2 separate regions of the Homo sapiens genome follow, and region 1 is linked to region 2. The links come from fine-mapping of genetic effects on gene expression. Tissue or cell type: whole blood. Region 2 holds a variant in brackets; the other region holds the start of a gene. All regions are shown on one strand. Distances are between the middles of the regions.

Evidence for each region. PIP is the estimated chance that this variant, and not a neighbour inherited with it, causes the effect.
Region 1: it holds the start of CHID1, and the variant in region 2 is fine-mapped to the expression of CHID1 in whole blood (INTERVAL, PIP above 0.99).

What each region holds. Positions count from the first base shown.
Region 1 is chr11:909,440-912,065 of GRCh38, reverse strand. It overlaps CHID1 (chitinase domain containing 1), which reads left to right and starts at 1,256. Exons shown (of 13, transcript NM_023947.4): 1 at 1,256-1,291. RefSeq lists a silencer at 734-1,573.
Region 2 is chr11:869,186-872,020 of GRCh38, reverse strand. It overlaps CHID1 (chitinase domain containing 1), which reads left to right. Exons shown (of 13, transcript NM_023947.4): 11 at 1,522-1,602; 12 at 1,858-1,900; 13 at 2,065-2,835. The coding sequence ends at 2,163. Among named protein-coding and RNA genes, the nearest start is that of TSPAN4, 28 kb to the right of the region's middle. RefSeq lists an enhancer at 652-1,414. The variant G/A (reference allele first, on the strand shown) is at 1,554.

The sequences.
Region 1 (2,626 bases), 40 kb before region 2:
AAAGGCGGCGGCTGCCCGATCGATTCTGCAATTCTTTAGCGCCAAAGACCTCTGACCTCAATGAGATCCTAAAATGGCTAAGTGCCTTTCCTAAGAGAAGTTGGATGTTGCCATGGCCTCCTTAGCATTGGGAGGACTGCGCATATGTCCCTGAGGACACCTGCCATAGCTTACTGGGACCCTCTCCAGAGCTCTGCCGACTTGAGGTCTTCACCCCCAAAGGTCAGGCTTCAGGCCACCATCCAGGCCGTTTGCTGAGAGCGAGTGCTAAGCTGAGTAAGAGCCCACAGCTGGTGGGGGACGTGCCTCGCACCGCATGCAGCCCCCAGCCCCTTCTAGGAAAGGCGTGGGCGTCAGCTGGCAGAAAATACCGGGAAGGGAAAGAAGGAAACGTGACTAGAAAGAAAGACAAAGCTTAGTTTAAGGAGAAAGCTCCCAAGCAGCAGAAATGGAGAAGCAGCTGTGCAGGGTGTCTTGGAGCCCACGCGCGCCCCGGGAACGGCTGAGCGGGGCAGGGTGGGGCCCGGCCGTGCGGTTTTCTGTAGGAAACTGCGCTGGGAACGGCTAGGGCTGGGGGTGGGGGTCGGACAGCCTGTGCCGCGTAGAATGCGCGGTGACTCAAAAGTGCTGGCCACGCGCTCGTTCATCCAAGCGCGAGGGGCTGAGTTGGGAACTTGGTTTGCCTCCTGGGGCTCCGGCTCGTGCAATGTGCAAGGCGGGGGTGCGGACCGAGAGAGCGCGCGTTTCGGGCAGTCCCCGCTGGAGACAGCGCAGTGGGCGCCATCGGCCTGGGGATGGAGATGGTCCACTCAGGCGGGGGTCGGGGGGACGCCAGGAGTGGTGACTCCGGGTCCCCGGGGGAGCGTGCCGGGGCGGAGCCCACCGCGCGGTTCTCCCGGCACCGCCGAGCCGGGCAGAGGCCCTGGAGCCCAAGGCCCCGCGCGGCCCCACGCCAAGGGCGCCAGGCCTGCCTAAGAGCCGTGGCGCTGGGAACCCGGCTACCCCTGGGCCGGGAACCTGATAACCAGCTCCAGCGCGAGCACCAGGGGCGCTCAAGGTGAACGCGCCGGGCCCGGGGTCCGCCCCCGGCGCGGCCCCGCCCCGGCCCCGGCCCCGGCCCCGGCCCCGACTTTCGGGCAGCCCTGCCCAGTCCCCTGTCCTGGCCCAGCCCCTCTCCATCCCAGCGTGCCGTGCGCGGCGGCGGCGCGCGGGCGCCTGGGGCGGGACTTCCGGCGCGCTGGAGCGTTTTCCGGCCGTGCGTTTGTGGCCGTCCGGCCTCCCTGACATGCAGGTGAGCCCCGCGGCGGCCGGCCCCTGCTCCTCCTCCTTGCACGGCCTCAGTTTCCCTCCCGCAAAGTGGGCGCGCCGGGCAGCGAGGCTCGGCCCCGGGAGGACGGGCGTGGGGTCGCGGGCGACGCCGGGCGGGTGCGTGAGAGAGAGCAAGTGTGTGAGGGGGCGTGTGAGAGGGTGTGAGGACGAGGGTGAGAGAGGGTTGCTATGAGAGCGAGGGTGAGCGAGAGCGGGGGTGGAGGGCGAGTGTGGACGGGGGCGCGTGTCGGGGGGACCGCGAGTGGGAGGTGGAGCGCGTGCGCTGGGGCGAGCAAGCCTGAGAGCTAGGCGCGCTGGGTGGAAGGGGCCTGAGTGCGCAGACAAGGGATGTGGCCGGCGGGTGAGGAGTGTGTGAGCGCGCGGCTCGTGTGGCAGAGTGGTGGCCATCGGGTCCCCAGGACCCCCAGAGGGAGCAGAGGCAGTAGGGCTCCAGGCGGGCTGCCCTCCCAGTGAGGGGCACGCGGTCCCCGTGAAGGGTGGGCGCATCAGACGCGATCCCACCCACCCTTGGTTCAGCCCCAACCCTTGAAGCTTCCATTGCTGACTGTCCAAACTGGAGGGTGACCCGCCCGCCCGTCCGCCTCGACTTCCTGGGCTCTAGTAATCTCTTAGCCTCCTAGCTACTTGGGACTACAGGTGTGCGCCAGCGCACTCAGCTAAGAATTTTTTTTTTTTTTTGAGACAGAGTCTCACGCTGTCACCCAGGCTGGAGTGCAGTGGCGCGATCTCGGTTCACTGCAACCTCCGCTTCTGGGCTTAAGGGATTTTCCTGCCTCAGTCTCCCGAGTTGCTGGGAGTACAGGCGCACACCACTGCACCCAGCTAATTTTTGTATCTTTTTTAGAGACTGGGTTTCATCACGTTGGCCAGGCTGGTCTTGAACTCCTGATGGGGTGATCTGCCCGGCAGAAAAATATTTTTTGTAGAGACCAGGTCTGGCTGTGTTGCCAAAACCAGTCAAAAACTCCTGGCCTCCCAAAGTGCTAGGATCACAGGCCAGAGCCGCCATGCACCAGTTAGTTCTTCAAAACACAACAGAACAGGAGTTGTCAGTGCGTCCATCGCAGAATAGAGTTAGCTCTGATTGGCTGCTGTCGCTCTACACATGTACACACATGCACAACACATGTGCACACATGACATACACGTGTGCTGGGCTGTGACGTAAAGTGCATTTCTTACTGCTGGTCTCCATGAAAAGCATTGGAAAGCCCCTGCTGTGACTCCCATCATTTCCATCAACACCACCGAGGAGGTCCTGGACCTACGGACTGGGAGCGCAGGAAAGTGGGAGCAG
Region 2 (2,835 bases):
ACTTTGTCGAGCACTGCTGGGGGGGTGGCAGCTGCTCCCATTCACAGCTCTGAAGTGACATGTGCCCTAGTCTGGAAGAGGCTCCCAGTGTCAAGGGGACTCTGCCCTGCTCAGGACAACAGCAGCCTTTCCCGTTTGGGAGCCTCAAACATCCCACTACTCCTGGGCAGGAGCAGAAAGGTGGCTCGAGGTGCGGTCCTGTGGCCATTTCTCACTTGGATAAACCCTGCACTGTCCATCTGTGACCCCTTAGGATCCTGCGGATGTCCATGCCACACGGCCCAGGTCCCTGCGCCCCTGCAGTTGCCTACTGCCTGTCCTCCCCTCCCACATGGCACCCGGGCTGTAGGCCCCACGCCAGGCCTCCTCCCTGAGGCTGCAGCCCCAGGCACGTGGGGGGCACTGTCCTCACGCAGCAGGCACTGGTCATGTTCCATTGTCAGCTGCCTCCACCTGCACAGACTCCTGTCTGTGGAGACCAGAAGCTTCTGGAACCACCTGCCCTGGTCCCAAATGTGCAGTGTGAGATGTGCACACACTCAGGGCCCCGTGACCTGGAAGCCGCAGTCGTGTCCCCAGCACCTTGGGAATGAGCCTGTCCTCTGTGTGAAGGAGGGGGTGGTTCTCAAACCACTGACTCTTGGTGCTCAGGAGGGGCCTGCTGCTGTCCTGGGCATGGGGTGGTCATTGTTCAAGACTGAGGCAGACTCAGTCTTTGAAAGGGTGCAGAGGCCAGGCGCGGTGGCTCACGCCTGTAATTCCAGCACTTTGGGAGGCCAAGGCGGACAGATCACGAGGTCAGGAGTTCGAGACCAGCTTGGCCAATACGGTGAAACCGCATCTCTACTAAAAAATAACAAAAATTAGTCGGGCATGGTGATGTGTGCTTGTAGTCCCAGCTACTCAGGAGGCTGAGGCAGAAGAATCACCTGAATCTGGGAGGCAGAGGTTGCAGTGAACCAAGATCGCACGACTGTACACCAGCCTGGGCGACAGAGTGAGACTCCGTCTCAAAAAAAAAAAAAAAAAAAGGTGCAGAAACCACTGCCCCGGGCAGCCATCCCCAGTACAAGGCACTGCCCACCCAGTACGAGGCACTGCCCATCAGTCCAGGGCCAGCAGCGGGGCCAGGGCAGCCTGAGGCCTGTCTGGTTAGCCTCTCACCTGGGGTCTGGACAGAGTGAGGAGCCCTGTCCAGCAGCCGCTGCGCGGCCTGAGGGTCACCCTCAGGCTCAGGCAGTTTCAGGCCCCGTGTCACTCTCCAGGCCACTGAAAGGACTTGGTGGGGTGGCTTCTTCCGAGGAAGCTCCTGGAAGATGTTTTTCCTGAGGTTTCCTCTAATACAGGGTTCACACGGCCTGGGGCTCTGGCCACCCCACCAGGTGTTGTCCCCCAGACCACTGGGGACAGTGGCTGCCCCGAGTGGCCCTGCCCCTGCTGAGAGCCACAGCCTTTGGGGGTACAGGGTGGGGCTGTGGGGGAGCTGGGTGGGCTCCCAAATCCATATCCTGGTCTCCCCAGGTACATCCAGACACTGAAGGACCACAGGCCCC[G/A]GATGGTGTGGGACAGCCAGGCCTCAGAGCACTTCTTCGAGTACAAGAAGTGAGTGTTTTGAAGTGCGTGGCCCACCTTGGCCTTGTGTGCAGGGAGGGGCCCTGGGGGTGGAGATGAGGGAGCAGCAGGGCCCAGGGGGTCTCAGGGTCACGAGCTCACTTGCTGCTCCCGGCCCTGGAGCACAGCTGGACAGCAGGTGGCCACCTGGTGGGTGGGAGGAGTACAGGCCGTGGACCTTGGCTGTGAGGGGAGGAGGCCTGGAACCAGCAGAGCGGATGGGCTGACAGTCCCTTTGTCTTGCAGGAGCCGCAGTGGGAGGCACGTCGTCTTCTACCCAACCCTGAAGGTGCGTGTGCTGCCAGCCGTGGGACCGGGGGAGGGGTGGGCCATGCGACAGCACAGCAGGCACTGGCCTGGGGTCCAGGCGGTGCTGCCCCTCGGCCTGGAGGACATCCCTGGGTGTTGGGGGGACAGGCCCCAGCAGGTGCTCACACCTCCATCTGTGCCCAGTCCCTGCAGGTGCGGCTGGAGCTGGCCCGGGAGCTGGGCGTTGGGGTCTCTATCTGGGAGCTGGGCCAGGGCCTGGACTACTTCTACGACCTGCTCTAGGTGGGCATTGCGGCCTCCGCGGTGGACGTGTTCTTTTCTAAGCCATGGAGTGAGTGAGCAGGTGTGAAATACAGGCCTCCACTCCGTTTGCTGTGACGGGTCTGCTGCAGTCCTCAGTCGGGGGTCCTGGGCACCATGTGACTCCCCATCCTCCCATGAGGGGTCCCTGCCCTGGATGAGTCCTAGCTGGGGGACACCCTGAGAGCTCGAGCCCCTCCCACCCGGGCATCCGCTGGCTGCCTCCTGTCAGCTGGGCAGGCGGGGCCCACAGTACCTGCCCCACCAGGACAGCCTGGCTCAGGCCTTTCTGGGCTGCTTCTCACATCCTGGGCTGGATGTGGGTTTGGAAGCTCTGGAACCATCCCGGACTCGCCCACTCCTGGATTCGAGGGCCCTCGCAGGGACAGCTCTGCCCAGCATCACCCCAGGGCCTGGCAGTGATAGAGCTGAGAGCTCCACCCCCACATACCTGCCACCCACCTGGCCAGCCACAGCACGTGTGTCACCTGCAGAGAGCCACCCAGACGTCCCCACCGAGTCCAGCACGGCAAGGGTGCAGGGGCTGCCCTAGAAATGGGCTCAGAGGAGCCTGGCCCACCCTCTTGAAACTGGTCCTGGACCTTGGCTCAGCTCTGCCGCCTCAGGTAGCACGACCCCCAGGCCAGCCTGGAC